7 linked regions of the Homo sapiens genome follow. The protein of the gene in region 3 purifies or fractionates together with the protein of the main gene of each other region. This does not show direct contact. Each region holds a gene or a part of one and is shown on either strand. Other genes may lie near its edges. The genes, in order: AKR1B1, ENO2, EZR, PPA2, ACAA2, TBC1D10A and LCP1.

What was found.
Region 1: the proteins of EZR (region 3) and AKR1B1 fractionate together in Homo sapiens (co-fractionation; one large-scale study listed by BioGRID). This does not show direct contact.
Region 2: the proteins of EZR (region 3) and ENO2 purify together in Homo sapiens (affinity purification with mass spectrometry; 2 studies listed by BioGRID, with this or other methods). This does not show direct contact.
Region 4: the proteins of EZR (region 3) and PPA2 fractionate together in Homo sapiens (co-fractionation; one large-scale study listed by BioGRID). This does not show direct contact.
Region 5: the proteins of EZR (region 3) and ACAA2 fractionate together in Homo sapiens (co-fractionation; one large-scale study listed by BioGRID). This does not show direct contact.
Region 6: the proteins of EZR (region 3) and TBC1D10A purify together in Homo sapiens (pull-down; one study listed by IntAct). This does not show direct contact.
Region 7: the proteins of EZR (region 3) and LCP1 fractionate together in Homo sapiens (co-fractionation; one large-scale study listed by BioGRID). This does not show direct contact.

The regions. Positions count from the first base shown.
Region 1 is NC_000007.14:134,452,097-134,456,588, forward strand, and holds part of AKR1B1 (aldo-keto reductase family 1 member B1), read right to left. Parts: intron 1-4,492. UniProt on the Homo sapiens protein: Catalyzes the NADPH-dependent reduction of a wide variety of carbonyl-containing compounds to their corresponding alcohols.
Region 2 is NC_000012.12:6,917,259-6,921,559, forward strand, and holds part of ENO2 (gamma-enolase), read left to right. Parts: intron 1-322; coding exon 323-456; intron 457-681; coding exon 682-904; intron 905-2,307; coding exon 2,308-2,505; intron 2,506-4,301. UniProt on the Homo sapiens protein: Has neurotrophic and neuroprotective properties on a broad spectrum of central nervous system (CNS) neurons. Binds, in a calcium-dependent manner, to cultured neocortical neurons and promotes cell survival.
Region 3 is NC_000006.12:158,766,631-158,771,122, reverse strand, and holds part of EZR (ezrin), read left to right. Parts: intron 1-228; coding exon 229-359; intron 360-1,178; coding exon 1,179-1,339; intron 1,340-1,704; coding exon 1,705-1,797; intron 1,798-3,610; coding exon 3,611-3,862; intron 3,863-4,044; coding exon 4,045-4,209; 3' UTR 4,210-4,492. UniProt on the Homo sapiens protein: Probably involved in connections of major cytoskeletal structures to the plasma membrane. In epithelial cells, required for the formation of microvilli and membrane ruffles on the apical pole. Along with PLEKHG6, required for normal macropinocytosis.
Region 4 is NC_000004.12:105,442,071-105,446,562, forward strand, and holds part of PPA2 (inorganic pyrophosphatase 2, mitochondrial isoform 1 precursor), read right to left. Parts: intron 4,433-4,492; coding exon 4,313-4,432; intron 1-4,312.
Region 5 is NC_000018.10:49,792,662-49,797,153, reverse strand, and holds part of ACAA2 (3-ketoacyl-CoA thiolase, mitochondrial), read left to right. Parts: intron 1-1,272; coding exon 1,273-1,389; intron 1,390-2,726; coding exon 2,727-2,874; intron 2,875-4,492. UniProt on the Homo sapiens protein: In the production of energy from fats, this is one of the enzymes that catalyzes the last step of the mitochondrial beta-oxidation pathway, an aerobic process breaking down fatty acids into acetyl-CoA.
Region 6 is NC_000022.11:30,316,647-30,321,138, reverse strand, and holds part of TBC1D10A (TBC1 domain family member 10A), read left to right. Parts: intron 1-4,492.
Region 7 is NC_000013.11:46,147,421-46,151,912, forward strand, and holds part of LCP1 (plastin-2), read right to left. Parts: intron 3,659-4,492; coding exon 3,516-3,658; intron 1,389-3,515; coding exon of another isoform or gene 1,197-1,388; exon of another isoform or gene 1,095-1,196; intron 1,028-1,094; coding exon 932-1,027; intron 1-931.

The sequences.
Region 1 (4,492 bases), on a different chromosome or scaffold from region 3:
AGATAGTAAGGGAAACCATTTCCTTCAAATATCTCAAAATATTTCAAAAATAGATGTCCTATGGACCCCAATTCCCATGTGGCTCCCCAGTTCAGCCAGTGAATGCCTGCCCCTTACGCTCTCTTTTCATGCATGGCTTCTGATACCGGCAGTCGCTTGTTTTCAAGCGGTTCTGGGAGATTATCATGAAGTTAAGCACATCACTGATGTTTATTCAAAGGCCCATGTGTCAATTCTCACTGTATGAGGATCTGCTTCAAGGGGTGGAGACACGGGAGATGGCCCCTCAGAGGTATCAGCAGAGAGAAATAAGTTAAAGGGAAACGAGGGGGAATGTGGATCATGGAAGATCACCAAATGGTTAGTGGCTGACCTGGCAAAATGACTGAATGGGTGTCCATGGCCAAGCCACCTGACCATCTGAGTAACCAGAACAGCTGTGGGGAGCCTGGCTACTGAAGAGGAGGAGGAAGTGCCTACATGGCATCGCGCTTCACTGGCACCCAGGTAGGCTGCATGGACACGTATCCCCCAACTTTCACTATCCTGCTATGATCACAGAGCTGAGCAATAAACATGTGCAGCGGGCTGTTGAATGAACAGAGCACATTCCTTTGGAGAGCTGGGGTAGAAACAAATGAAAAGAAAAACCCCCCAGGGCCATAGCAGCTGCAGACATCTGTGTTTTGACATCAGCTATTTTCAACAGGCTTTGGGGAAGAAAGGGGCCCAGTTGAACAAGCCCGTTACCAGAGCCTGTTAGCATGGAGCTCACTCTCCACCTCAGAGGGAGCAGCGAGGCAGGGTGGGGATGCTCATCGAAGGTGTGGGTTAAGAGGGGACGACCCTCAGAGGACCTGGCGACCTCTTATTTGACTGGAGGACCTCAGAAGCTGCTCTTGCAGCCTTCCCCACTCTGCACGGTTGAAGGAACAGAGAATCTCAATTTCCAGAAAGAATGCCTTACCACAGGCCCTGAGTGGTGTCCGGGCACAACCACCACTGATGACAGCAGGGAGAGCAGAGGACATCCCTACCCCAGAAAGAACAACTGGGGCCCAGGCAGGAAACTGCCCAGGACACACTGAACTTTCTCCAGGCTTGATGGCGCCTTGATTGATTTTTCTCTGAGGAGCTGCTGAGGGCACACTCCGCAGGCTCAGCCTAGCCACGCACTGCCTGCCATGCAACTGGTGCGGGGACAGGAACATGACTCAATCCAGGCCATAAGACTCAATCTTTGCACTTGAATTGGAACCCCTGAGTCCAGCCCCGGTTCTGCTGGGGTCACTGAGCTGGGAGAATGTCAGCCTGGAGCTGCTGCAGGAAAGTGGAGGGAGGCCAAATCCTGGTGACAACATTTACAACCCTGAATCTCAAACACCTAATGTCAGCGGCTGTTGTTTGGGGAAGTCAATCAATCCCCACCCCAAACACACTTTTTTTTTTCCTGCTTAAGATTAAAGTGGTTTTTCAGTTCTTTGGAACCAAAAGAGCACAGACTAGGATAATCAAGCTTGCGTTGGCACGACATGAAAAAAAAGTTGTGAGAGGTTTTTCTAGAAAAGTAAAAGACAGCAATGACTGCAAGAGGTCACGAAGAAGCTGCTGATCATTCCTTGGATATGTGCCATTCGCTGGAGACATGTGTGCTGGGAGGCTGATCAAAGGTGCTGGAGGGAAAAAGTCACCTCTGCAATGAAAATGTACGAGGATCCACAACCACATTCTATGTTAATGATCTCAATGTACAGCCCTTCCCTGAGAGAAACTAATTTGCCTTATGAAAAATGAAGCAGCCAACTTAAGCTATGGTGAGAAACCATTCACTAAACTTGGGAATGCCAACACAGGATGACAACATCTCCCCATTCCATGTCAACAAAGAGAAAATGCAAACAGAAGGAGGGGTCCAGATTGACTTCTAAAAAGAAGGTAAACTATGAAAACATGCTGGGTGGCATCCAGGCACAGCCATTACTGATGAGAGCTGTAGAAATGCAGTATATGAAACACTCCAATTACAGCTCAATCATACAAATCCTACATGTTTCTAACCCGATCCTGCCACTAATCTGTGTGCCCTTGATGGGCAAAACCATGCATGCCCATTCCTCCCAGAACTTCTGGCTCTGCAAAGCTCTACGTTGGGCAGTGACTTGAAATGCTCTGGGCTGATGGCACCAAGTGATGGCAGTGAGAAGCCTCTGCCCTTGAGTCCTCCACCACCTCCTTCAAGACAGCGGTCCTAGTTCCTCCTTTGATAACACCGGCTGGCTAATACCAACTCTGAGACACTGATAACTAAAATCAGTGTCTCCCTCCTACACAGATACAACACTCCTTTTAAAACCTAGTCTTCTTCCCTTTTGCTTACAGGTCTTGCTAGTTACTTCAAGATACCCCTCCCTCTCTTCCCTCTGCAAGTCAAAAAGCAAGCCACAGTGCTAAACAGGAAGACGGTCACAGGACAGTGTTTATGGTAAAACCAAAGTATCTCAGAGATTGGATATTTTGCAATATTAACCACGGGGATCTCTGGGAACAGGGAACTCTTCATTTTTGAAATGTTCTCTAGTTAGCAGGTGTTACTACTGAAATCAAAGGATAAGGGGAGGGGGCAAAGGAAACTTCACTTTGGGTAAAGAAACGGTCCTGAGTAGGAAGCATGAGAATGCTGTGCTGATAATCCTGGAGCAAGGAACAGGAAACGATCACTCAGAATCAGGTTTGGCAGCAGAAATTAACTTCCTCCTGTTCTGTTTTAATCAATTTGTCCCAAATTCTAAGACACTGCTGTTTCCAACTAGTTGAGATGTGCATGGACCAGGACTGACCCTGTAGGGGCAGGGCTTATTTAAATGTCTTTGGTCTTGAAGAGGAAGAGATGGGGGCTTTAGAGACACCAGGGAAGTGAACAGTAAATCTGGCTCCTGTGTTACCTCCATGCCCACAGCGCCTCAACCCTCACCCCATCCAAGGATCTTGGGCCATCACAAGCTTACCCCACTTGGGGAAGGTGGAGCAAGTCTTTCCTGGCACATTTTCTTTTACCTCATGCATTCTTAAAGTGGGTGCTATTGTCCCCAAAGAGACAAAAATTAGTTCTCTGGGGCAAAAAAACCCCCCTCAGCTTATAGAACAGCTTGTGACCCTCTAGAAGGCTACTGGCCATAAGCAGAAGTACAATATTATCTCTGATATTACAATTTTATTTTGGGGCAAATTAGGGGAAAAAAAAGTCTCACAAGGCTCCTAGGTGGGAGGGAGGTAGTGATCATGGCAAAAGATGGAGAAACATAGTTGTACCTTCAGCCCTAGGAGTATTCTGTGAGCATACATAGGAGACTTACAATGACTTTTACCTCCAACAATTTTTCAACTAGATTAAAAACACTATCAGTAACAAGACACTGGTGGGCACCAGACATCATCTCTGTTTTAAAAGCTTCCTGGCTTTACAATGCTGTGATGGGTTTTTGTTGTTGTTGTTGTTTCTGAGACCGAGTTTTTTTTTGCTCTTGTCGCCTAGGCTGGAGTGCAGTGGCACAATCTCAGATCATGGCAACCTCTACCTTCTGGATTCAAGTGATTCTCCTGCCTCAGCCTCCCAAGCAGCTGGGATTACAGGCACCCACCACCATGCCGGGCTAATTTTTGTATTTTTAGTAGAGAGGGGGTTTCACCATGTTGGCCAGCTGGTCTCGAACTCCTGACCTCAGGTGATCCACCCGCCTTGGCCTTCCAAAGTGCTGGGATTACAGGTGTAATTGTTTACTATCCAATGTAGAAGGCAAGACTGCCAGAAAGAAACCCTGTCCAAGCCACATGGGTCTGGGGCAGAGATGGTCTCCCCATCTGCCTGAAACCCTCACCTGAGAAGAGAATGGAGTTTGAGGACCTTCAAGAGTAGAGACTACCAGAGCCCTGCTGAGGGTCTGAAAGGTACAACACAGCCGCTACGGCATGGGAAGACCCAGGAGAATAAGGAACTGCACCTGCCTGCAGGGCCTCCTCCAGCTGTCACAAAGACAGGCAAAGGATCACATCTTCTGTCGAGCATCTGTGAAAGAATACATACACACATACAAGGGAAAGGTTTTTTTGTTTGGTTGTTTTTTTAGATGGAGTCTTGCTCCATCGCCCAGGCTGGAGTGCAGTGGCGGGACCTCGGCTCACTGCAACCTCCACATCTGGGGTTCAAGCGATTTTCCTGCCTCAGCCTCCCAAGTAGCTGGGACTACAGGTGCGTGCCACGATGCCGGGCTAATTTTTTGTATTTTTAGTAGAGACGGGGTTTCACCATGTTAGCCAGGACGGTCTCTATCTTCTGACCTCATGATCTGCCCGCCTCTGCCTCCCAAAGTGCTGGGGTTACAGGTGTGAGCCACCGCGCCCGGCCCCAGGGAAAGGTTTTAAGTCATTAAAAAAAAAAAGGAAGTTGATTCCAAGTCCATCCTTATACCATTACTTTGACCCACCATTCCCCGCT
Region 2 (4,301 bases), on a different chromosome or scaffold from region 3:
AGCTGCAGAGGGAAGGACCGACAGTAGGCAGAAGGAAGACCTTCTTTGCAGCATACAGAGGAGGGGGATGGCCTGAGAGAGTCTGTGGTCTCAGGGATATTTAGAAAGAGGTGTGGCTCTCTGCCGTTTCCAATCTCCTCCTCCCCACCCATTCCTCTCCCTGCTGTTTTCAAGAGAGCATGGATGAGGTGTTGCTGGGGCAGGGGTGGGGAGGGAGGAGGGGGTCTCCTTTACTGGCTCCTTTTGGAGACTACAGATGGAGGCAGGAGCTAGAAAGGAGAAGGGGACATTGTGCTCAGCACCTTCCTCTATAATCTCCTAGCCAAGTTTGGGGCCAATGCCATCCTGGGTGTGTCTCTGGCCGTGTGTAAGGCAGGGGCAGCTGAGCGGGAACTGCCCCTGTATCGCCACATTGCTCAGCTGGCCGGGAACTCAGACCTCATCCTGCCTGTGCCGGTGAGCAATAAGCCAGCCTGCGGCTCTCCCAGGGGCGGGTGGGGGAGGGAGCATGCAACTCATGAGGAATGATGGGAGGAAAGTGAATTGAGGGAGGTAAAGAGGAAGGATGGGGACGTGAGACTTAGTCCGGAAAGCTGGGGGAAGTTTGGGATCTTGGGTTAACACTCCTGGGGCGGGCAGGGAGGGGCTCTTTGACCCTTCTGTCTTTCTGTGGCTCCCCAGGCCTTCAACGTGATCAATGGTGGCTCTCATGCTGGCAACAAGCTGGCCATGCAGGAGTTCATGATCCTCCCAGTGGGAGCTGAGAGCTTTCGGGATGCCATGCGACTAGGTGCAGAGGTCTACCATACACTCAAGGGAGTCATCAAGGACAAATACGGCAAGGATGCCACCAATGTGGGGGATGAAGGTGGCTTTGCCCCCAATATCCTGGAGAACAGTGAAGGTGAGGCCAGGAGCCCCACTCCCAGCTCTAAGTCTTACCCTATTGTGGGACATCAGAAAGGGTGACACAGTTCACCAAGTCCTGAGTAGGCGTGGAGGGTCCTAGGACTCTGCAAACTCCAAAAGGTACCAGTTCTTAGAGTGGATTGCAGAGAGCCTGCCAAATTCACATGCAGACCTAGGGGGACAGTATTTTTTTTTTTTTTTGAGACGGAGTCTTGCTCTGTCACCCAGGCTGGAGTGCAGTGGCTCGATCTCAGCTCACTGCAAGCTCCGCCTCCCGGGTTCACGCCATTCTCCTGCCTCAGCCTCCCGAGTAGCTGGGACTACAGGCGCCCGCCACCACGCCCGGCTAATTTTTTGTATTTTTTAGTAGAGACAGGGTTTCACTGTGGTCTCGAACTCCTGACCTTGTGATCGGCCCGCCTCGGCCTCCCAAAGTGCTGGGATTACAAGCGTGAGCCACCACGCCTGGCCAGGGGACAGTCTTTTACCTGCCTAGCCAGATGTGTTAGCATCTGTTAAGTTGCCACTGGAAGGCCGGGCGCGGTGGCTCACACCTGTAATCCCAGCACTTTGGGAGGCTGAGGCGGGTGGATCACCTGAGGTCAGGAGTTTGAGACCAGCCTGGCCAACAAGGTGAAACCCCGTCTCTACTAAAAATACAAAAATTAGCCGGGCATGGTGGCGTGTGCCTGTAATCACAGATACTAGCGGGGCTGAGGCAGGAGGATCGCTTGTACCCGGGAGGCGGAGGTTGTGGTGAGCCGAGATCATGCCACTGCACTCCAGCCTGGGCAACAGAGCGAGACTCCGTCTCAAAAAAAAAAAAAAAAAAAAAAGTTGTCACTGGAGCCCTTGGGAATACTGGGAGATGGTCTGGATGACTGTTGGATTCATCCCATCCATTCGAAATCTGTCCTGTCCCCGTCCCAACCTCCTAGGCCTCTAGAATCCCTAATTTTTCTGTGCCTTGGGGGAAACTGTATAGGGAATGGAAAGAATATAGGTAGTGGTTAAGAGTTAAGGTTCTGGGGCCAAATAACCTGGATTTATTTGAACCTTGACTTGTGGAGTTACTGCTGGTGAACTTTCTTACTTCTCTCTGGAAATAATAACAGAATCTAGCTCATGGTAGTGTGAGGCTTAAATGAAATATATATAAAATGCTTAGATGACATGATACCAATGAAAGTATAGTAAGTATTATTAAGAGAATTCCATTCCTCTGTGTTCCTAGAAGATGGCCTCTCCTCCCAGACCTGGGGATAACCCCAACAGCATCCCCGCCACACTTCCCTCAGGAACAGCCCTCCACCTCTGCCCTGAATGTCTTTTCTTTCCCTCCTCCTCCTTGCCCATCCCTCCTGCTTGTACTATAATCTCACTGTATTCTGTCCCCAGCCTTGGAGCTGGTGAAGGAAGCCATCGACAAGGCTGGCTACACGGAAAAGATCGTTATTGGCATGGATGTTGCTGCCTCAGAGTTTTATCGTGATGGCAAATATGACTTGGACTTCAAGTCTCCCACTGATCCTTCCCGATACATCACTGGGGACCAGCTGGGGGCACTCTACCAGGACTTTGTCAGGGACTATCCTGGTGAGAGGAAGTGGTGTGAGGGGGAGGTCTGGGGGCAGGCAGGGACGTGTCCCAGCAACTCTGGACCTTATGGGGTGCTGACTCAGGCACCAGGTGGGGGTGTCCTAAGAAGAACCTGAGAACCAGGGAGAGGGTGCAGGAGCCACCTGCAAAGACTGGGCTTTGTATGTAGTGTAAAAATGCAGGTACCCGTGACCAATCTGTTCTGTCTCAGATCCTGATTAAAGTCATGGGTTCTGAAAACTACTGGGGTCATGGGGAAGGCTCTGGAAGGAACCAGGGATGATATGAGTGTGACTGGATCTAGCAGAGAACTAGAACATTTCAGTATCTTTGATTGATGAAATTGTGGATGCTGAATGGAGCTGGGACTGATGTGTGAGTAGAAAGAAGGCTGAGGGGGACTGAATTAGCTTCTGCAAGTCTGCCCAGGGCCTTTATCTCAGGATGGAGGCAGTTGGTCGCCATCTTCCTGACACAGAGCGAAAGAAAATCAACATAATTGCAGAATTAAGGATTTGGATTAGCAATGAGGAAGGGCTTGCTGGCAGTGAGAACAGGAAAATGCAAAGCTAGGTTGTGAACCCTTGTTACTGGAAGATTTTTTTTGGGGGGGGGGTGGGGTTGTTTTTTTTGTTTTGTTTTTTTTTTTTGAGACAGAGTTTGACTCTTCTTGCCCAGGCTGGAGTGCAATGGCGCCATCTCGGCTCACCACAACCTCCACCTCCCGGATTCAAGCGATTCTTCTGCCTCAGCCTCCCGAATAGCTGGGATTACAGGCATGTGCCACCATGCCTGGCTAATTTTGTATTTTTAGTAGAGACAGGGGTTTCTCCATGTTGGTCAGGCTGGTCTCCAACTCCTGACCTCAGGTAATCTATCCACCTTGGTCTCCCAAAGTGCTGGGATTACAGGCGTGAGCCACCACGCCTGGCTGGTTTGCTTTTAATTAACTTTTTTTTTTTTTTTTTTTTTTTGTAGAGACAGGGTTTAGCCATGTTGCTCATGGCTGGTCTCAAACTACTGGGCTCAAGTGATCTGCATGCCTCGGCCTCCCAAAGTGCTGGGATTACAGGCATGAGCCACTGTGCCCAGCCTATGGAAGTGGCGTGAGATCTCTGCTCACTGCACGATTCTCTTAGCCTCCCAAGTAGCTGGGATTACAGGCGTGCACCACCATGCCTGGCTAATTTTTGTATTTTTAGTAGAGATGGGGTTTTACTATGTTAGCCAGGGAACTCCTATCCTCAAGTGATCCGTTCACCTCAGTATCCCAAAGTGCTGGGATTACAGGCATGAGCCACTGTGCCTGGCCTCTCCATGTAAGGTTTTATGAAATAAGAATCAGGAGCCAGGCGTGGTGGCTCATGCCTGTAATCCCATTACTTTGGGAAGCCGAGGCAGGAGGACTGCTTGAATCCAGGAGTTCGAGACTGGCCTGGCAATACAGTGAGACCTCATCTCTACAAAAATTTTAAAAATTAGCTGAGTGTGGTGCCACACACCTAAAGTCCCTGCTACTCAGGAGGCTGAGGTGGCAGGATCACTTGATTGGGGAGGTGGAGGTTGCAGTGAGCTGAGATTGTGCCACTGCACTCCAGCCTGGATGACAGAATGAGGCTCTGTCAAAAAAAAAAAAAAAGTTAAGAATCAGTTAGGGCAGGCTTACACTGGGGGGATTTGTCTTAGCAAGGATGAGCAGGTGTAGTTAACCAAGGGCCTGTCCATTTCAGGGAATAAAGGGGCATGTTCCTGCCTGATGTAGAGACCCAGGGAAGATGAACACCTCCCCCCTC
Region 3 (4,492 bases):
CCACGCTGGGATCTTCGAGGCCTTTGTCTCTGGGCGGTTGCTGTGGTGCTGAGCCTGTTGTCAGCCCTGGAGCGGCTGCTCCGTCAGGCAGCTCAGGCTGGCAGCAGGCTAGGGTGGCCCTCAGGATACCAAGTCCATCCTGGAGCTTCAAGTACCCGTGAAGTGTGTTGACCCCTCACTTTCCTGCCAGAGTCTAAATCTCCCTGTGCCTCTTTTTCCCTGCACCAGGCAACAGCTGGAAACAGAGAAGAAAAGGAGAGAAACCGTGGAGAGAGAGAAAGAGCAGATGATGCGCGAGAAGGAGGAGTTGATGCTGCGGCTGCAGGACTATGAGGAGAAGACAAAGAAGGCAGAGAGAGGTCAGGCGCCCTGGGGCTGGCACTCTACACTGGGTCATGCATTTCCACAGAGTAGCAGGGGCCACACCCACCCACCCACTCACCAGGAAGGAAACCAAGAACGTGTCCCACAGCGCAGACTCACAGCCGAAATGATAAAATGGTTATTTGGTTTGGAAAACAGTTCTGTACTTATTTAACTTTGATGCTAGTTGTTCTAAGACTTTGTATTTTAAAATTTCCCTAGTCTTTTGCGGTAAGTGCTCAATCACCCAGTTTCCCCGATGAGGACAGTAAGGTTTGGTGCGGTACAGTGATTTGCCCACAGTCCCCCAGCCCATGACTGACAGGGCCATGCTGCACTGCCCTCGACCTCTAGACTAAAACCCAAAGGCGTGTTCAGAGCCAGACTTCCCAGCACAGCTCCAGTCAACAACCCCAGCAGCTGGGCCGATTACACAAGGCGCCACAGATGCTGTATTCACTGGCAGCCCTTACAGCACACATGGGAAGGGTGTTCTGTGTTCTGAGTGGAGTGTGGACCACCAGCACAGCGGGCGGCTGACCTGGGGAGAGTAGCGCCAAGAGGGTTGAGTCAGGCATGCCAGAGAGAGGGCGCCTGGCTGGCGTTGGACGGGTTTCTAGCCATCTTGAGGAAGTTGTCATGGATACAGCAGCAATGAGCTCTGTGAAGTGCTTTCCTCCAGGGTCACTGGAAGACATCCCCTCAACCTGTGACTTGGTCTAGGGCTCTGTGGCTTTGGGGGTGGGAATGGAAAGCGAGGGCTCCTAGGTCCCTGGGCTGAGGGTTTGAATGGCTCTGGCTTTGTGTCTTTGCAGAGCTCTCGGAGCAGATTCAGAGGGCCCTGCAGCTGGAGGAGGAGAGGAAGCGGGCACAGGAGGAGGCCGAGCGCCTAGAGGCTGACCGTATGGCTGCACTGCGGGCTAAGGAGGAGCTGGAGAGACAGGCGGTGGATCAGATAAAGAGCCAGGAGCAGCTGGTAGGAATGGCCTGAGTTTCAAGATGCTGAATTATAGAGAGGCTGCTTCTGAGGATGGAAAATGTGACACCTGCCTTGTAATAATTGTCATGACTGGAAGCTGTAAACTGATCTGCTGGGGGGCTGAAGGCAGCTGGTGGGGAAGGGGCTGGGCTGTTGCCAGGGTCACCCATTGAAGGTGGGTGTGGGCATCCAGGAAGAGATGCCGGGGGTGCACAATGGACCCTGCTGGCCATGGAGTGGGGGTGGCGGGGACTCAGGTGTCACGTTGGAGACTGCTTGCCAACACACATGAACACTCATTCACAACTGGACTCCGTTGAAAGGATATCAGAACTGACGTGAGCTTGGCATTCCCTTCCCAGGCTGCGGAGCTTGCAGAATACACTGCCAAGATTGCCCTCCTGGAAGAGGCGCGGAGGCGCAAGGAGGATGAAGTTGAAGAGTGGCAGCACAGGGTGAGTCTGCACGGGGGACACCTCCGCACGGCCACAGCACCTGTTGCCCAATTGCCTGCGGTGGGGCCCTTCTGCAGGTGGGTGGGTTGGGGGAGAGGTCTGGCTCAAGCTGCCACATCCCACTGGAAGCTTCTGGGATGTCTCATGATCCTCTGCCAATACCAGCTGTACTACTGAAGTAGACATCCCCAAAGAGATGGGTTTGACTTTGTACACGAGTCAGTGCAGCTGCTGGATTCATAGAGGGAGGACCTCTGATTGACTTTCACCCACTTTGCTCCCTCCACCCCGAACTGTTCAGTGCTGATCTGACAGCCCCCGGTCAGGAACTGGTTTTAAATCTAATTATATATGTGCCCCTTGCAATGGGGTCGCAGTGCCTGAAACACGACCTCCTGCAGCTAGTATATACAGCGGGCACCATGGAAAGATCCAGCTCCTTGGACGTCTCCAGGCTGGAGTGAGAGCTGGGCTCTGCTGCTCATCAGCTATTTGGGGGCTAGTAGCATCACTTCTTCAAGCCTCATTTTCCTCATTGTAGAATGGGGGCAATACCCAACTCATAAGGTTGCTCTGCAGATGCGAGGTCCCATGCCCAGGACCTAGCACAGAGGTTTAGTCAGCTGTAGCTCTCATTGTGGGACGCACACAGAGCTTGTCGCTCCGTCTGGGATCCCCTGTGCCCTCCAGGAAGGCACAGCCCCTGAGAAGCTCTGGGGATGGTTCCCACTGGAGACTGCACACCAGGCTTTAAGCAGCTCCTCTCCTTCACAGACCCGCTGGCCCGTCCTTCCCCCACTGTGGCTTCTCCATCTGTGGAGGTGCCTTCTGGGGACGTGTCTCCCGGCTCTCCAGGGCTGCTGCTGCCTAGTACCTCCTTGCCTCTGTTCCAGCCCCCATTCCCGCTGCCGATCTGTATTAGGCTGTTCTCACAACGGCTATAAAGAACAAGCTGAGACTGGGTAGTTAAAGAAAAGAGGTTTAATTGACTCACAGTCCCACATGGCTGGGGGAGGCCTCAGGAAATTTACAATCGTGGCAGAAGGCGAAGGGGAAGCAGGCACCTCTTACATGAGGGCAGAAGAGAGAAAAGCAAAGGGGGGTAATGCCAAACACTGAAACCATCAGCTCTTGCTCAGAACCCACCCACTAGCACGAGAACAGCATAGGGGAAACCACCCCGTAATCCAGTCACCTCCCACCAGGTAATGCCCCCCACCCCCAGCATGGGGGGATTACAGGTGGAGATGAGATTTGGGTGGGGACACAGCCATATCACCATCCCAAGTTGCAAGCGGAAGACTTTGGTTCTTAGGTTTTTGGAGAAAGTACCTGTTAAGTGAGGAGAGCTGGCTACAAAGCAGATCCACACTAAGCTCAACTCTAGGGCTGGCTGGGATGGAGGCGGGCGGGACTGGGTGTGTGTGAAGCTGTTGGAAGGACTGCAAGTGGCGAGCAGGAGAGCACTTGATAATGACTGTGGCATGAAGGGAGGCTAGGAACAGAGCCCGTTACTCATGCTAACAGGATTTTTTTTCTAAAAATTATATAATGTCTAGAGTTACAGGTAAAAAAAGAAATGGTAGTTTTAAAACTGCCCAGGTTCCGGCATCACAGTTCCTCTTCCTGTCTTGGACGCAGAGGGTTGTAAACCCCCCATGCACCCTGAGGGTGCTCCTCTTCGAAGCCACAGCCCAGCACAGTTCAGTGCTGCCTTAGCCTGCCAGGACAGAGGGAGGTGACAGTCTGTTCTCATAGCCAGGAGGATAGGACTTCTGGGTGAGAAGTCCTCTTATTAATTTGCTTTCCAAAGGCCAAAGAAGCCCAGGATGACCTGGTGAAGACCAAGGAGGAGCTGCACCTGGTGATGACAGCACCCCCGCCCCCACCACCCCCCGTGTACGAGCCGGTGAGCTACCATGTCCAGGAGAGCTTGCAGGATGAGGGCGCAGAGCCCACGGGCTACAGCGCGGAGCTGTCTAGTGAGGGCATCCGGGATGACCGCAATGAGGAGAAGCGCATCACTGAGGCAGAGAAGAACGAGCGTGTGCAGCGGCAGCTGCTGGTGAGGCCCAAGGGGCTCTGTCTCCAGGGAGCCTGCCTCGCTTTTGGAGCAGACAGGCTTGGGGAGGGCAGTGATGTGAGCCAGCCCCACCCAGCACCCCTCTTGCCCTTCCTGTTTTCCTAGGGGACGGGCCGGGCCATATGGGGAGGAAGGGACTAGACCAATGCTGCTTAATGTTACAGACGCTGAGCAGCGAGCTGTCCCAGGCCCGAGATGAGAATAAGAGGACCCACAATGACATCATCCACAACGAGAACATGAGGCAAGGCCGGGACAAGTACAAGACGCTGCGGCAGATCCGGCAGGGCAACACCAAGCAGCGCATCGACGAGTTCGAGGCCCTGTAACAGCCAGGCCAGGACCAAGGGCAGAGGGGTGCTCATAGCGGGCGCTGCCAGCCCCGCCACGCTTGTGTCTTTAGTGCTCCAAGTCTAGGAACTCCCTCAGATCCCAGTTCCTTTAGAAAGCAGTTACCCAACAGAAACATTCTGGGCTGGGAACCAGGGAGGCGCCCTGGTTTGTTTTCCCCAGTTGTAATAGTGCCAAGCAGGCCTGATTCTCGCGATTATTCTCGAATCACCTCCTGTGTTGTGCTGGGAGCAGGACTGATTGAATTACGGAAAATGCCTG
Region 4 (4,492 bases), on a different chromosome or scaffold from region 3:
CATAGCTCACTGCAACCTTAAACTCCTGGCCTCAACTGATCCTCTTGTCTTGGGCTCCCAAAGAACTGGAATTACAGGGATGAGCCATCACCTATGCTTTCCCAGCTTTAATTTGGAGCAAAAGCCTCTACCAGTGTTTTTACTACTAGTAGCTAACATCAGTAGCAATCATCATCATTGAGTTAATATTATTAAGAACTCACTATGGGGCCAAACACCTCTGATCAACTCATTCAATACTCACAATAACCTTGTAGGGTAGGTAGTATGATCATACAGATAAACAAACAGGCCTAGAGAGATTTAGTCACTTGTCTCAGGTTATAAAGCTAATAAGTAGGACTATATATTTGATTGGGGAGGTCAATGAACCAAATTTATAATTAAGCACAAAATAAACATATCAATACTACATTAAGACTGAAGAAATTTTGAATTTAAACTGAATCTAGTCTTTTAATATTTTCCAGACAGGTATTCTAAATATTCACTCAATGAGATGTAACACTGAAATAACCCATTACATGTGGGCAATATGAATAAACTGGTGGGAAGACGAGATGAATTTTTGCCCAGGGAAGCTCAAACTTTGAGGAAGGCATTATTAGGAGTGCGGGAGATGCTATTCAGGCTAACGGTCTAGACAGCTGAAGGTCTGAATAATGATGGTATACTGATGAATCACAAGCTAAGTGGATAGACTACTACTTAAACAGTATTCTGCTGCTTAAATGTTCTTCTAAGTACACAGTTGGCTCAGTAACTGCTCTGAACAAGTTTCTTGCTGTTACAAGACGAATCATAGAACAGCTAAAGTATCCACACACGCCTATGAAACAAATGTGACACACATACACAATGCATTAATTTATTCATTTCACAGTTATTGATCACCTACTCCATGGCAGGCATTAAGCTGGGTAGTCAGAATGTATCAGTGAACAAAAGAGACAGAATACCTGCCCTCATGAAGTCTGCATTCTAGCTGGGAGAAATTAACAATAAACATAATAAATAAATTATACAGCAGGTTACAATTTGGCAGGTGTTATAGAAAAGGGAAATAAAGTATGAGAGGGGGAATGGGAGTAGGGTTAAAAGTTTTAAAGGATGATTGGCAGATACTATGAAGAAGATGAGTTAAAGGCAACCTAAGGAAGCCATGTGCATACCTGGAAAGGAGTGTTCCCAGGAAAGGACACAGTGAAGGTGAGGGCTTGAGACATCAGTGTGCTTTGAGCACCAGAGTGCCAGTGTGGAAGTGAAGAAGCAGAAGGCAGAAGGAGAGTTGGAGATGAGATTAAAAAGATAAATGGGACCAGGGGCTGGCTTTCATTTTAACAGGGTCATGTCTGAACATCAACCATCAAGCAGAAAAAAAAAAAAAAAAAAAATCAGGTAGAGCTATTCCATAAGCTATCCCATAAGCAATTGGCATGATTTCAGCATTCTTAAAAACATCATTCAATTTAGTTATTTTCTTTGATAAATAACTAACTTATATGCAATTTATGGTGTATTCACACACACACACACACACACACACACACACACACACACACACACAGACTCTCTCTCTCTTTTTCTCTCTCTCTCTCCAAGATCAGTCAGGTTTAAAAAAGTAGTACAGATCTCTAATTGAAAATGGCAGACAGAATGCAGGTCTATTTCCTCTTTCACTTCCATTCTAGCCACACTGGCTTCCTTTTTGATACTCACACATGCTAGGCCTATTTCCACCTCAGGACCTTTATACTTGCTGTTTCTTGTTGGACTGCTCTTCCTCTAGATGTCCACACTACTTGTTCCCTCACTTCCTTTAGATCTTTACTCAAATAACACCTTTTCACTGAGATCGTCTCCCTGTCTAAATTGCAACAATCCTAATATCCCCTAGTCCCATTCCCTGCTTAACTTTTCTTTGACATACTTACCACCACCTGACATTTTACTTGGGGTTTATTTTGTTTATTGTCTGTTTATCTGACTAAAATAAAAGCTCCAGAGAAATATCTGTCACTTTTTATCACTGCTTTACCTGCAGTACTTACAAGAACACCTTGCAAATATACAGGCCTTTAATAAATATGTACTGAATGAATGAACAGTTTGGTGAAGGCCTGGTGAGGACACAATGAGGTAAGTTAGAAACACTGAAGAAGACTTTGTGGTGGATAGACGTGAGAAAGGGGGAATGCTGCAAAATGAGGATAGAGAAGTAAGCGGAGGCCAGATCACACAGGGTTGAGTAGCAATGTTAAGAATTTTGTATTTTATCTTTTAAGCAACAGGAGACCATTAAGGTGTTCTTGTACAAGAAAAGCATCTGCAAATTTGTGTTTTAAAAATATCAATTTGGATATTGGATGGAGTATGAAACTTAGGTAGGCAATGGTGAATGCAGGGTGAATAATGAATTAAGGGACTACCACAGTCTAATTCTGTTTTATTAGTAGAAGAACTACCGTACCTGCCAGATTAATACCACTGCAGAACATCTGGAAATCCAGACACATCCAGAGGAGCACAGAAGTTTGGCAGGACTTTAAATGGAAAACTACAGAAGCTTCTTTTGTTTTTACCTCCGTTCCTCCCCTTCTCTCTTTCCTGTCAATAGGTTTGCTTTTTTATTTTTTTCATAATTTTAAATTAGTAGATGAATTAGTAGTGCCTATTATACCACATCATAACCAGCAGTTTAGTTCTTGATTGCCCCAATCAGACTAAAAACAACTTTAGGGAAAGAACCATACGATAATAAAAGTACCAGTCTTAATTATAACAATAATTGATTACTACATGTTACACACTATTCAAATGCAGTAACTCATTTAATCTCAACACAAAGATAAGAAGTAGATATTTTATGTTCTCCATTTTACAGATGAAGAAAATGAGGAAAAGTATCTTTCCCAAGGCCCAAGGTCACATTACTAGAAAGTGACAATCTCACTCCCAAACCCACATTTTCCAGTCACTTATTATGAGGCCTTGATGTCACATCTATATCCCATCTGTCTTTATATACCCAACACCTAATATCCTGCCTAGCACATAAATCCTTAATAAATGTTTAAAGAAATAAATACATGCACCTTAGTTTATTCTCTAGCTCCTCTACTTACGTCTCTGTTTTTGTCTGTCTCTAATTCATTGGCTTCTTCAGCATTACCCTCATCCACACATTTCCTACAGGCTGCATCCCCTAAGCTTTACAGAACTTTTTCAACCTTTTGCTGTTGGGTCAAACAGCATACCTATTTAAGTACCTGGAGAGTTAGAAAACCTGCTTTCATGGTTTCCACAGGCATTCTCATTCTTAGCATATCACTTTAGAAGTGCCCATTTTAACCAAGAATGTATCCATGTGGGTGATCTAACTGAATCAGAGACAGCCTGACTCTTTAGAAAACAATTTTTTTTTAAATTTTCCTGTGAATGTTTATTCTACACGGGCAGCTGCTTTTTCATGTTGGATAAAACAAGACCTCTCTTCTCAGATATTTCCCCAATACCATCTTGAAATTTCATGCAAAATATTAAAATAAATAAAAATATAAAAATTAAATTTCCAGACAGATGGTCTATGGTTTTTATAAACATAAAGGCAGATGGTTCTCTGTGTCCCCAAAACCTAGAATTTTGATTCAGCATATTCTGAGTTTTACTCACTAAATAATCTGGAAGAGTTACCTCTTCCTGGGAATGAGGAAACATGAGAGAAAACCAAAAGAGGTAAAGAAAGGAAGAAAAGCAAATAGTTGTTATTCTCCAACAGGAATGCTACCTTATCATTATTTAGCTCTTGTTTTCTCTGCTTTCTACTTAAAAATTATTAACTCATAACAGTAAATAAGTTGTGCAATTCAATTTACAATGAGTTCCAGGAAAAAGTTAATAATTTAACACATTCATCTGTTAAAGTTTAAAATATAAAATTTGTGCTATCATATATGAATGTGTATAAAAGCATAACTTGTCATGTTCAAAGGAATGACTGTAGATAAAGCCTCGCTTAAAAGTTTTTCACTGACACTTAATAGGCAAGACCAGAAAAAAAAAAATGTATTCAAAATGTCAAATGTGAACATTCCATATGCCTGACTCCAAGAACTTGAGTATAGACATATATATGGTTTAAAACAAAATTTATTGATATACTAAAACTCCATCCACGTTAATAAATTCCAAATTTACAAACCTCTCCAAATGACATGTCCTCAGAACCAATTTAAATTCAGTAGTTCACAGGATTTATAAGGCAATTTTTTCAGAAGACAGGAACATTTTACCATTGTAACAAAAATGTTACCTGAGGGAGGGTACCATAATTCCATATATAACCCTTGTAAGGGAAGATATTCGCCACATAGCGTAGCTTTCCATCCTTTACATATTGTTTAATGGGATTCATTGGCTCCTTGGTGGCAATCTAAGCAAATCACAGAAGGAAGAAAAGGAGATGGGATAAGAAATAATTAATTCTATGTCC
Region 5 (4,492 bases), on a different chromosome or scaffold from region 3:
ATGGTGTTCCCAGGGACTGGTGAGGGAAAGTTAGTGTTTAATGGATATGGAGTTTCAGTTTTGCAAGATGAAAAGCGTTCTGGAGATGGGTGATGGTAATGGTTGCATCACACTATGAATACACTTAAACTACTGAGCTGTATACTTAAAAATGGTTAAAATGGTAAGTATTATATATATATATATACTTCAATATTTTTAAAAGCTAGTATGTTCATCATTCTTTCGAGTGCTTCCTACATGCTAGGCACCCTGCTAGATTTACATTCAATATCTCATTTAATCTTACAACCATCCTATGAAGCAAGAACTATTATTATTATTCCCATTTTACAGGCAAGGAAACTGATTAAAGCCATTAAGGTTACTCAGTCATAGAATTTGAACCCAGGTCTGTGAGTGTTACCTGTGAGGCACTGAATAAAGACCGTGAGGCAAGCAGGAAATCTCAAGAATTTAGGAGAGGATAAGGAAATGTATTTTATTTCAAAGGAAGTGAATGATGCTGTTAGTAGAAGTACAAACTAGTTTGACCTTTTTAAAGGACAGTTGGTTAAATACATTTGTTTCTTTGAGCACAGAGAAGAAAGTGAAATCCAATTTCATTTGTAAAAGTCTTCATTTTATTACAAACAAAATAAGAGCCAGAGGCGTATTTTAATAAAACAATTTTCACATTAATTTGTTTCTATAACGATATATCTTAAATAGTGACCTCGGTTTTCCTAGTAATAATTTTAAGAACCATCAGGTTCATAGAGGCTCATTATTTGCTCCTTTTCTGAGAAAGGCAAACAGTGGAAAGTGTTGGAAGAATGAAGTGGTTTCCTTTTTATGAGTCACCTAGATTGAACTAGTTCTTGTAAATCTCTGTTCTTGTTCAGATACATCCATTAATGGGATAAATTTTTCTTTTGCCTTTTTAAAGGGTATGTCCTTTATTATCTGCTGTACATTTATGCCAGGTATTAATATCTGTTGATTTTCAAGATTTATATTGTGTTAAGAATTACTATTCTTAGCCACATGTAGGTAGGGCCTGTTACTCAGGCAAACATGATTGAAACCTTTTAGTTTTCTCCTCCTACATCTTGGTAATGGATACTTTAGCATTTGCTTTACAGTTACTTTAAAAGCATTTCCTTTTGAGACACTGTAAGCTACAGTACAATATTTGTTTGATTTACCATTAATTTGTAAAATCAGTGTGTTTCTTAATACATTGTTTGGGTACGGTAAAAGGAGTTTTTATTACTGTTTGTTTTTAAATAGGAAATTTGTGTTAAAGAAGCTGAAGTTGTTTTATGTGGAGGAACCGAAAGCATGAGCCAAGCTCCCTACTGTGTCAGAAATGTGCGTTTTGGAACCAAGCTTGGATCAGATATCAAGGTTGGAACCATAAAAATTTAAAAGAATTAGTTCTTATTAGCATTATATAAGTACTTTTAATAACATACCTTTTTATGGGAGAGAAAACTAATTTTGAAGCCAATTTCGTTGATGAGGATTGGCAAGATATGAATGATTAGAAGTTTGTAAACTATTTCAAAACTCTATTTTGGTGGTTAGTTTTGACATTTTAACCCATATGAAATTAGATTCTATCTATCTCAGCAGACCTCTAGTAGTATAATTATCCTGTGTAAGTGGCCATAGGCATGGGAGAGATGGAGGAAGGGAAGAAGTGGATTAAAAAGATAGACAAAAGAGTGAATTAATCTCACTACTAAACAATTAGTAATCTGAGTAATTAAATCTTTAACGTGACTTATAGAAGTTTTATTTCTGGGACAGTCTCAGAATAGATTTCTTCATCATCACAGAAAACATCTTTGAATACAGATTATATTGTCCCAAATCAAACAAAAACTGATTCTTTTATCTTTGAGAGCTACAACTTGAGAATGATGGTACAGTACTGATAAAGAATGATGTTTTCTTCTCATTCCCATGTGAAAGGGCTACTGACATTTTATATTTTTTAGCATTTTCTATAGTAATGTTTGACTCACACTGTTCACCCAGTTTCTCACCTGGCCTTTTTGGAAGTTGAAAGGAATGGGACTTAAGAGAATCTATGCGGATTTTAGCCACCAAACACATTTGAGATATCTTTTATGAAGACAGGTCAGTGAGTTAAATGTTGATGAGGCAGCAAAGTGGGGCACACTTACCAGAGACTAACTACTTGAATAATAATTAACAACCTTTCTGTAACTCTGGGAACCTGTCCCAAGATCTTTTCAGCCTCATAGTAACCGATAGAACCAGCTATTCCTGTCACTGAGGCGCAGGATGAAAAAGAAAAACAGATAATACTGTTTATTACAGAGCTCAGGGCTGGTTTACAAAGATGGCTATAAGAAAACATTGCATGAAGACTCATTGTCAGGTTTTCTACAAAATATGACCTTGAGGATTTAATTTTTGATCGTAGGGTAACTTCTGTGATCTCACCATGCACGTCTAGTCCTGTTAGCTGTTCTTAGACCCCCACATTTAGAGAGGGACAGAGAATGTGTGCATTTTATTTTGTGACATTGAATGTTTTCAAAAACATTGCATGTTTTTAAAAAATATCCCATAACTGAATATGAATAGTGGTTATCAGAAAGTCTTAATTTTACTTTTGTTTATTGGAAGTGTTGATTATTTAAAGAAATTATAACATATTACTTTTAAAAGGAAATGCCTTAACAAGTCACTTTATTAATGTCTTTTAATAGCTGGAAGATTCTTTATGGGTATCATTAACAGATCAGCATGTCCAGCTCCCCATGGCAATGACTGCAGAGAATCTTGCTGTAAAACACAAAATAAGCAGAGAAGAATGTGACAAATATGCCCTGCAGTCACAGCAGAGATGGAAAGCTGGTGAGTGAAACTGGAAAGTATCAGTATCTATAGAATAAATATCTATAGGAAATATTTTCATCATTTCTATTATGGTTATATAATATTTACAAATCATACCTTTAAGAATTATTACATCTTTTCATTATTCCTTTGTCTTTAGATGATCAGATATTTTATTAATTATTGCAAAATTAACTAGGAATTTCTCTTTTGAAAAAGTTAGTACTACTTAAAAAGTGGTATTGCTACTTGACCCTAGATGGACCCTTGAGTTTTGTGCTGAACTGGTCCTGTTGTCAGTAGAACATGATGAGGAATACGATACGTTCTGTCAGAGGTGATAGCTCACTGTGGCAACTGGAATATAGAGGATGTCCTCTCCCACAAGCCATATCATAATCATAAGAAGGGGTAATGTATTTGGAAAAGACCCACTGGGTCTTTTATGCTTTCCTTCTGCCACTCCTAATTAAGAATCATTGTACCTAACTCAGAGACTTAGAACTAGTCCGAGACTCTAGTTAGAGTGCCCTGGTGTAGCACAGCAGGTTGCTATAGAGCCGGTCCAAAACAGGCAAATGTGACAGCAGTTCTTTTAGCAGTGCAGCAAGTTGAAGAAATGTGATATTTAAAAAATTAAACTGTTAAAGCAAGTGGAAACTCTTATTTAGGAATATTAAATGCTTGAAGTAATGAGGATAAAGTCCATCTTAGCATTTCAGAAGGATAAGTGGAATAGAGCTGATGCCATCTAACTCGTGTGTTTTTTTACTTATATGTTCATAGTGGAAGAGGATTGGTCTAGAAGTCAAGAGTTATCAGTTCTGTTTCTACTTCTACCACGCACAAGTTATCAAGCTCAGTCATATCATTTATTCACTGAACCTCTGTAAGATAGAGATAACAATATTTGCCTTCCCTATTTATCTAATAAGGTTGTTTTAAAACCAAATAAGGGCATATAAGGAAAGTATTTTGCCAATTGTAAAGTGATATGAAAATTAAGGTTAGTATTATTCCTGACCCTATTTCCAAAGCTATAGATTACTACAGTACATTCTAGTCAGTGGAGGTCAAAGTAGGTAAGATGTTTTACTTATAATTGTATTAGTGATTGCTCCCATAATTTCTTCAGGTTGCCTATCACTATTAAGTTTCAGTTAGATTACTTTGTGGCATAGACAACTTGGTAACTTTTTAATTGCTTATCTCACCAAAAGAAGTTTAAAAGGGGTATTAAGTCCATTTATTGCCATTACATCTATAGCAAACAGACAGATGCTGCTAACAGTCTTAGCAGTACCTGGTGAAAAAAAATTGTGGTTAAAAAAATATAATTTTTAAAAATATAATTTTTAAAAGATGCAAAATGCATCTACATAAACACATGACAGTATCGTAAATCCTCCAATACGGAAGGTAAGTTGTGTAAGTAAATAGTAAAGACTCTATAATTTTTAAAAGATGCAAAATGCAACTACATAAACACATGATGGTATCGTAAATCCTCCAATACGGAAGGTAAGTTGTGTAAGTAAATAGTAAAGACTCAGGCTGAGCGTGGTGGCTCATATCTGTAATCCCAGCACTTTGGGAGGTCAAGGAGGGTGGATCACGAGGTGGTGAGTTCGAGGCT
Region 6 (4,492 bases), on a different chromosome or scaffold from region 3:
CACCAGCTGCTACCCTGGGAAGGTGCCTGAGTGTCCGCCTGCTGGGAAACTCTAAGCTGTGGGAAAGAGATAAGATGGTAGCACCTACTTGATGTTTTGTCCTACCAGCATCTGGGCCTGAAACAGGACCTCCCAAGGGGCAGTGAGGCCTGGCTGTGGCCCAGCCACCCAATCTGTTTATATCGAGGTGGGCAAGAGAAGGTACTGTGTGCTCCCTCCTCACACAAGCGCCAGAATCTGGCTGGCTGTGTGATCTTGGACATGTTGCTTCACTTCTCTGAGCCTCAGTTTCTCACCTGCAGAATGGTTATGATAACACTGACTTTGCAGGATCATTCTGAGGTTTAAATGAACTAATAATACAGGGTAGGTGCTCAGTGAATGTTCTTCTCCCTCTTAAAGACTGGAGCAGCTCGTGGTTCTATCTTTTCATTTTCTACTTCCCATCTTTGGCTATAATGATGAGTGTCAGTGAGGCCCAGCCCCTGTCGGCAGGAATGAACCCTAACCCATGGTGAATCCTTACTTCCCCTGAGAGGGGTGATTATCCCCATTCTGTGGATGAGCGTACTGAAGACCGAGGAAAAAGTGCCCAAGGTTTGCCAGCTGGTAAATGGCAGAACTGGGACTAGAACCTGTTTCTTGACACTGCATCCAGTAGTGACTACACCTTGCTAAGGTGGCAGCAGGCAGGGTGCCAGGTGCTTACTGTCCCTAAGTCCCTAAGGTCCCTGAGGTCCCCACACCCAGGGCAGGAGTTAGCAGGAATCTGGCTACCTCCCCCTTCCAGTATGGAGGGCAGAGCAGGTCTCAGTACAGGGAAAGGTCATGGCCATCAAGCAGGAGAAAGGCACAGGGAGGAAAATCCTTGGAGAGGTCCTGGAAGCATGGCCAGATCAGGCCTGATTTAGTCCTCCCATAGGCCAGAGTCCGGATTGCATTGGTCTTGACCCCAACATGCTGCATAATGGCCATTTGACTTTGATATCTAGTCTGTGCCTTTTGGAAGAAGTGTTACTTTGTAGATGAGGCAGGGATTATGTTGCTTGTACCGGTGAGGAATCTGAAGGTTGGAGAACTCTTGCTGTTAGTGAACTGTGGAGCCAGACCGGAGAGGGATCCCAGGTCCTCCGACTGTCACCCAGTGCTCCTCTAGCTACATAGCACTGACCATTCTCTTCCCCTTTCTCTTCCTCAGTCGAGGTAATTGAGCCTACAGGCTCAGGATGCATTGCCGACTAGAGCAGAGCCCTGCCATCATCCATCCGTTGTCCTAGCTGATCACTTTATCCTGCAGACAGTACACTTGAGGGGTAGGAGGCCTCCTTTAACTGATTAGTCTGCCCCTGGTAAATCTATTGCCGCAATCCTGGGCCCAGAGACCCTCTCCAGCAGGGAGAACACTGTACTGGCCACCCCACTGGCAAGTCAATGCTCCTGATACTTAACCAGCTTAGAAGCCCCCACCTAGGATTTCAGGGCAGCTGCCAACTTTGGCTTTCTCTGTCTCATCCTTCCATTTCCCGTCTCTCCTCCCCCTACCCTACCCTACTCCATTCTGTGCCCTGTCCAGGTCTTCAGAGGCTGCCATAGCTTAGCACTCAACACCTCTTCAGGTAGAGAAATACTCAGCAGACCCAGCAGCCTGGGAGAGCAAACCAAGGCTTACTTTTGCCAGCTTATCCATCTTAGCAGTGAGCTTATTTACCACACATTTATTGAGCACCTACTCTGTCAGACCCTGTGATTTGGACAAGAGATATAGAACTGAACAAGATGTCTGTGTTTTATTGCCCTCAAGGCACTCACAGACTTGCTGAAAAATAGAACCACAGACAAATCTTTCCAGTGTTGAGTGATGAAGGCTGTCATTGAGGCATGCAGTTGCTCTGGGAGTACAGAGGAAAAAGCAGCCAGCCCCACCTGCAGGAGCCTAGAAAGTAGTAGCATTTGATCCAGGCTTCAGAAGAGGCAAAGCAGGGCAGTCCATTGGATGAGAGGGGGCCCATGTGCAAAGTCCCTCCCAAAAGCAGTCGTTTGAGCATGTGTGGCAAGAGCAGAGATGACAAGAAGAACGGGAGGCAGTAGGATGATACGACAAGAAGAACGGGAGGCAGTAGAATGATACGAAGCAAGGGTAGGTTAGGGAAATGGGTTGGGCAGTCTCAGTCTAGCCTTGAATGTCAGGCTGAGGCCTCTTGTGTTGCATAAAAGTTAGTCCAGGAAATGGGTTGGGCGGTCTGAGTCCAGCCTTGAATGTCAGGCTGAGGCCTCCTGTGTTGCATAAAAGTTAGTCCAGGTCTGGCATGGAAGACGGCATAAAGAGGAGCTGGATTGCAGGCAGTGAGACCTGTTGGGAGAATCAAGGATGGCCTAAAAGGGCTGTGGTGAGACCTGGAAGAGGTCTGGAGCAGTGAGGATAAAGAGGCTGGCAAATCATTAGTGCTTGGTTCATGACTGCCATGTGGGCTGATGGAGAGGTAGGAAGGCTCTGGACTAGCTGAAGTGGCTTTGGCCTCTTACAGAGTCCATTCTGGAGCCCTCTGGCTACAGGGAAGCAAGGCCAGCTGTGGCCTTCCTCTGAAGAGGGCAGTGGGCTGCTGTGACTCTGCGTTGTCACAGCTCTGGGCTCCCCAAGGTGCCTGGTATGGCTGGCTTGCCCCGGGCACATCAAGGGGTTCTTTGTCTCCTTCCAGCAGGAGAGTGGGTTGGCTGACCTGGTTGGGGAAGGAATAGGATAAGCGGTGTTGAGCTTCCTGGTCTCTGCCTGGCAGACATATTGGATGATAAGGAAGGATGCAAGGAGAACCAGAAGAGAGGACTGGGGCCTGAGGACATGGAAAACCTACCTTAGGGTGGTATGGCAACTGGGAAGGGTGGGTTTGGGCCTTTGGACACAGCATACACTGATCAAGGGGAGGCACTTGGCAACTGGAGGCTTGTTTGACCTCACCTAGCACCTTTATTCTGTTCTTAGAGGTGGTGCCTTGGCTGGGACAAAACCTGTGAGAAGGCAAACCCCTCAGCACTTACAAGGGGCACCACCAGTGGCATCCGGAGATGAGAGATTCTGGCTGGAAATGTGGATTTTAGGCTAGTGTTTGAGAAAGGGCTCTGAACCAGGCACAGGGTCAGAGTGTCAGTGATGGCTCCACCACTGACCTTTGTAATATGTGACTTAGGCACATCCCTCACCCAACCATGGGGCTAATGCTTCCAGTTTTTTTCACCCAGCACTTACTATATGTGTAGCCCTGTGCTAGGCTCAGGATATAGACCTGATCTTGCCCTCACAGGGAAATCAGACATTAAACAAGTAGTTTCAACCAGTCTGGTCAACATAGTGAGACCCTGTCTCTAAAAAATAAATTAGCTGGGCATGGTGGCACGTGCCGGTAGTCCTAGCTACTACAGAGGCTGAGGCTGAGCCTGGGAGTTTGAGGCTGCAGTGAGCTGTGATTGTGCCACTGCACTCCAGCCTGGGTGACAGAGCGAGACCCCATTTCTAAAAAAAATTTTAAAAAGAGAAAGAAGTTACCAGGTGTGGTTGTATACAAAGGATTGTGAGGATCAAATGAGATAATTGGATTAGGAGCATAGTGTAAACAAATACTGCTGAACGGAGATCTGGAGACCTTAACCCTATGCCTTACTGAGCCACTAACTAGCTGTGTGACCTTGAGAAAGTTGCTTAATCTTGGTTTTGTTTTGTTTTGTTTTGTTTTTTTGAGATGGAGTTTTGCTCTTTTGCGCAGGCTGGAGTGAAATGGCACAATTGATCTTGGCTCACTGCAACCTCTGCCTTCCGGTTCAAGCGATTCTCATGCCTCAGCCTCCCGAGTAGCTGGGGTTTTAGGTGCCCACCACCATGCCCGGCTAATTTTTGCATTTTTAGTAGAGACAGGGTTTTGCCATGTTGGCCAGGTTGGTCTCAAACTCCTGACCTCAGGTGATCCACCCACCTTGGCCTTCCAAAATGCTGGGATTACAGGCATGAGCCACCATGCCGGTCAAAAGTTGCTTAATCTTTTTAACCTCGGTTTTCCCCACATAAAAACTACGCAGTTTGTATGTGTGTGTGTATGTGTGTTTGTTTTTAAGAGACAGGGTCTGGCTCTGTCACCCAGGCTGGAATGCAGTGGTGCAATCACAGCTCACTGCAGCCTCAACCTCCCAGGCACAAGCGATCTTCCCACCTCAGCCTCCTGAGTAGCTGGGATTACAGGCTGAAGCCACCATGCCTGGCTACTTTTTTTACTTTTTGTAGAGACAGAGTCTCACTATGTTGCCCAGGCTGGTTTCAAACTCCTGGGCACAAGCGATCCTCCCTCCTCAGCCTCCCAAAGTGCTTACGTTATAGGCATGAGCCACTGTGCCAGCCAACTAAGGCAGCTTTAGTGGGATGGTGTTGAAGACAGCTACATCTGACATCCTGAGACTGACCGTGGAGTATATGAAAAGTGTTTTGAAGCCTGAGTAACATAGGGAGACC
Region 7 (4,492 bases), on a different chromosome or scaffold from region 3:
TTCCAACCATTAAGATTCCTTTTTATTATTTGTGTGCACAGATGACATGAGATTGTCTATCAAAAATTTTATTTATTAATTTATATTCCCATAACCAGTTCACAAAAGATATTTACACTTGCCAGTAAGAACATATGATTAGCATAACCACTGTCTCCACATTGAGTTGGTATACTTGCAACCCAAATAAAATAAATTTTATCAGTTAACCTATGTATTATTATTGATAAATATATAATATCAATTTTATTTTTGCAGACTTCAGATTTTGAACCACTCAATGTGCTCAAATAATTCTAGAGAATCTCTAGCCATTTGTAAGTGACTCTTAACCCTAAAATTTTGCTGAAATATGGCCCACTGTCCTTAAAGTACATGAAACCACCAATTTTCAGAAAACAAAACTTTAAATTAGGATGATTTCTTAATATGACCCTTTACTAGATAACGCTACACATTATGCATTTCATGAGCTTTACTTGTCATTTACTTTTACTCTACTTCTCATTAGGAATCAGTTGACTTCAACATGAACTCATTGGATTTAACTCCAGTGATATTAAATGAGGCACAGAAACGGGCAAAGAGACTTCTCAAGATCAGTATTAAAGTGGCGGCAAAACAGAAGTTTTATTATAACATTCAGACCCATGTGGGGTTATAGAGTCTACTAAATGATGAACATATATAGAATTGCCTAGCATGCTGGATGGTGTTTAATTACTATTGGTTTCTTTCTTTAATGTTGTATTTCCAGATTCAGTTTTCATCAATTATTATCCCAAACTGCTCACAGTTTTACCGTTTTAACAGGGCTTTAGGCAGAAATGCCCAGTCATGGAACTCCAGAATCAGGGCCACACAAGGTAATGGAACTGCCAACATGAAAATAGCATCATATTCTCCAAACACAACTGGGACCTGGCCTTACCCGCAGTCCTGACATGTCAATAACAACAGCAGGAACACCTTCTTCATCTCCTTTTGGAGCCACCTGCTCAAGCAGGTGGTAATAAGCTTTTGAGTCCTGTGAGAAATTAAGAAATTCCAATTTCAAAATAGCACAGCTAATTACATACTTAGCATAACAATGATTTCCCAAAAGCAAACATTTTATTTCATATTCAGCTATCATTCCAGAATGTAACTTAACAAAGCTAGAAACATTCACTAATTTGAATGTTCTATTTGTCTCTTTACATATCACATTTGCTTTTCTTTTTAAAAGGAGCGTAACAATAAAATAGACAAGATATACACAAAAGGCACCCTAAAGAAGTGGATATTATTCTGTTGTCTTTAGGGGAGAAAAACAACTTATTTACATGAATTAAATTGTATACAGGAAAATATATATATACCTTTATATTGCTGTAGAAGTCAGTCAGCTAAGGTTTAATTAAAAAAAAGTGACAGAAAAAGGAAGCACAAGTTTAAAGCGAGTTTAAAATACATTTAAATGGACAATCAGCAAGAGAAAAAGATGTCAAAGACAGAAGATTGAAGCATTAACAAGCAATCTTTACGTAAAAGGAGAAATATTAAGAAAAGTGCATTTCATATTTATCTAGAAGCTAGAAAAATGGTTCAATTTAGTTATAGCAGATTAGATACAGGTATTGAATTCTCAAGTTTTCTTAGATTCTGAAAATATGCTTATTGACAAAAAGAATTCTCAGAATTATAGTCTTAAAATATAAATTTATTCTTAGTCAATGAAAGCATACAGATTTTCAGGTAGTTTATTTAAATCATTTAATAGCATCTCAATTTCTCATAAAGATCGAAAAATCAGCTATTATTTTGTTTCTACAACTGGTTAGGGTAGGTAAGGCCTGGGCAGAGGAGAGGTATGCTCACCACTTTTGGCATTAGAAAGAGGAGAACCAGAGAGTGTGAATCATTGATGTTGCACCTGGGGAAAATGATCTTCATCTCCCTTCTATCTACCCTCCCTTCTCTGACTTTTCACTGTAGCTATTTTGAAGTCAGTGAAAGTCACATGCAGGTGTCAGGCACCAATACCATCTGCCTGCCCTGGGTTACATCTTTTTAGTTTGGCTAAGAGTAACCTCATTTCACCTGACTCTCATGAACCTTCTCACTCACTCTAGCCTGGGTGTTCTCCTCGCCTTTGCCAATTTACACGATTTAAAGACATCTCCCAAGGTTGCTGGCTGGCTACTCAGACATACACATGACAGCACGGAGTCAGTTGCCATGCAGCGGCTGCCAGAGAACAGGCACAACACTGTATAAGTAAGTGCTCATCTGGCCAGCTCCTATCTCATACAGACACTTCCCAAAGCACAAAATGGTGGTTCTAGAGAACACAGCCATTTAATGACAGGAAATTAGGTAAATTTACAGCTGAGATCTGACAGCCTAATTTTGTCTGAAAAGTTTTGCAATTGCAGAGCTTAACTGTTGAGCACAAAGGGAGAGCATGACAGCCAGCTCCTGTTAAAACCCAGGTCGGTTGGTGGTGCTAGAAGAATGTTAATAGCCCATGAAAGATGCATAGTTAGAAAGATGGATTTAGCTTAGATCCTAAAAAATGGGGGCTTTCCATCTAGAAGCTTGACTCTGACTGGCACAGTGCCTGACACACGCTGAGTTCTAAATGCCACTGAATGCACGTCATATAGCAGTGGGAAACTGTTACTCAAAGAATTACAAGCCTAGGTGTACTCCTGTTGAGTCATGTGAACTTTCCTCTGACTCTTTCTCTTTGGGGAAAAGTTATTTAATGTTTGAGAAAGTGGAGACTGAAGTATTTTCCTGGTGTTGCATCCCAGCATCTCCTACTCTTTCCTTCTAGGGACCGCTTTCCATTCCTTTCTGCTCCTTAACCACTTTCTATCTTCATCCATCTGTCATCATTGCCAATAGCTGTTTTCTTTCACCTTGACAGGGAACTTTTCATATACTTGAAAACCACAGTGTATTCCTGCCTCAGCCTTTCCCCTATGGACCTCTTTGTCTCTTTATCTGTAAAATGAGAGGATAATAACCCTTACCTCATGGGGTTGTTGTAAGGATTCAATAAGAGAATACACATATAAATCAGTTAGAACAGTGCCTGGCATGTTGCAGACACCATGTTTGCTGTTATTAGTATAACTAGAAGAGTCATCTTCATTTAATTTTTTACAGGGAATTCCCATCTGCTGCTCCCATTTATGAAACCAGAGACATTACAGACCTACATATATTCCCTTTACTTGGACAGCAGACTGTTCTCTTGCTCTTCCTCTAGCTCACCTTTGTCCCTCTACTTCCTGATATGGAAACTCCAATCGAGACACTGCACTAGGACTCTGGGCAGGTCTGTGTATGGCCCAGGACTAGAGCAGCAGATGGGCTCTCAAGGACAGTGAGCACCTCCAAAACAGCACCAGACTACCCTGGAACTTCTGAAGAGAGGAAGCCCCAAATCTTTATCTTTTCTTTATTATTGCCCAAATTCCCCTTCACTCCTGCAGAGAGTCATGTTCAAACAACGCTCCTCCTACCTTGATGTCAGTACTGAAGTTGCCAATTTTGTTGCAGCCTGCATTTTCCAGGTGGTAATTAGCCCACCTCAGCAAGAGCTCTTCAGGGGAGAGTTTCATCAAATCCTCCAGGCTCTCACCTTCTCTCAAAAGAGCAATCAGAGCTGAAGAAGCACAAAAACCACAGAAAAATAAATGCAGCGATGTTGGGGGAGGGGGGTTGGTTATAACTTTCATTAAGCTCTGCTAAAAAGCTAAAGATAACAACGTTACCTCTTTGGGGTAAAGGTTCTTGTAGCCTTTCCCATGGATTAAATATTTTATTATTATTCCCTAAAAAGAGGCGTAAGCCATTGTGAGCTTATTTATTATCTCCATTTTCCAGATGGAGAAAACAAAGCACAGTGAATCTCAACGCTATGTTTAAGAACATTTGGGCAGAGCCATAAAAATAACCAAGGCTACTGGCTCGGATGTTTTGCTGGGTCTGTCAAACCACATTTCACAATATGACAACATTTTTGCTTTTAAGAGATCAATTTTGTAATAATAACAATGTTCTCTTGTCTATTCCCATAGGTGTTTTATATTTCAAGTGCTTACCTGCCTAATTATAGCAACTCAACAATGTAATCAACTCTCCTCTACGTTTTCCCAGATGAGTAAGTATTTTTTTGCTCAGCTAGAAGGTTTAAATTTAGCTGAGGTCATTATTTGAAGATCAATATTCTTTCTCACAGGTTCTAAGATCCCTATTTCCTCTCCCCCGCCTTCTTTATATTATGTTTAATACATTGGTTTTTAAATAATATTTCAGGATTTTTCATTGGTTATTGTGATTTGGACATATAAATAAAAAAGTATGTATAACTAAAGATTAGAACTTGACTACAGATTTCATATTGGTAGGATTTGTACCTGATAACTAAAAGATAACATCGTGTTTTGCATGATACTTATCAAGGTGGGCTACCTCTGTCTAAGCCAGGGGGCTGTCA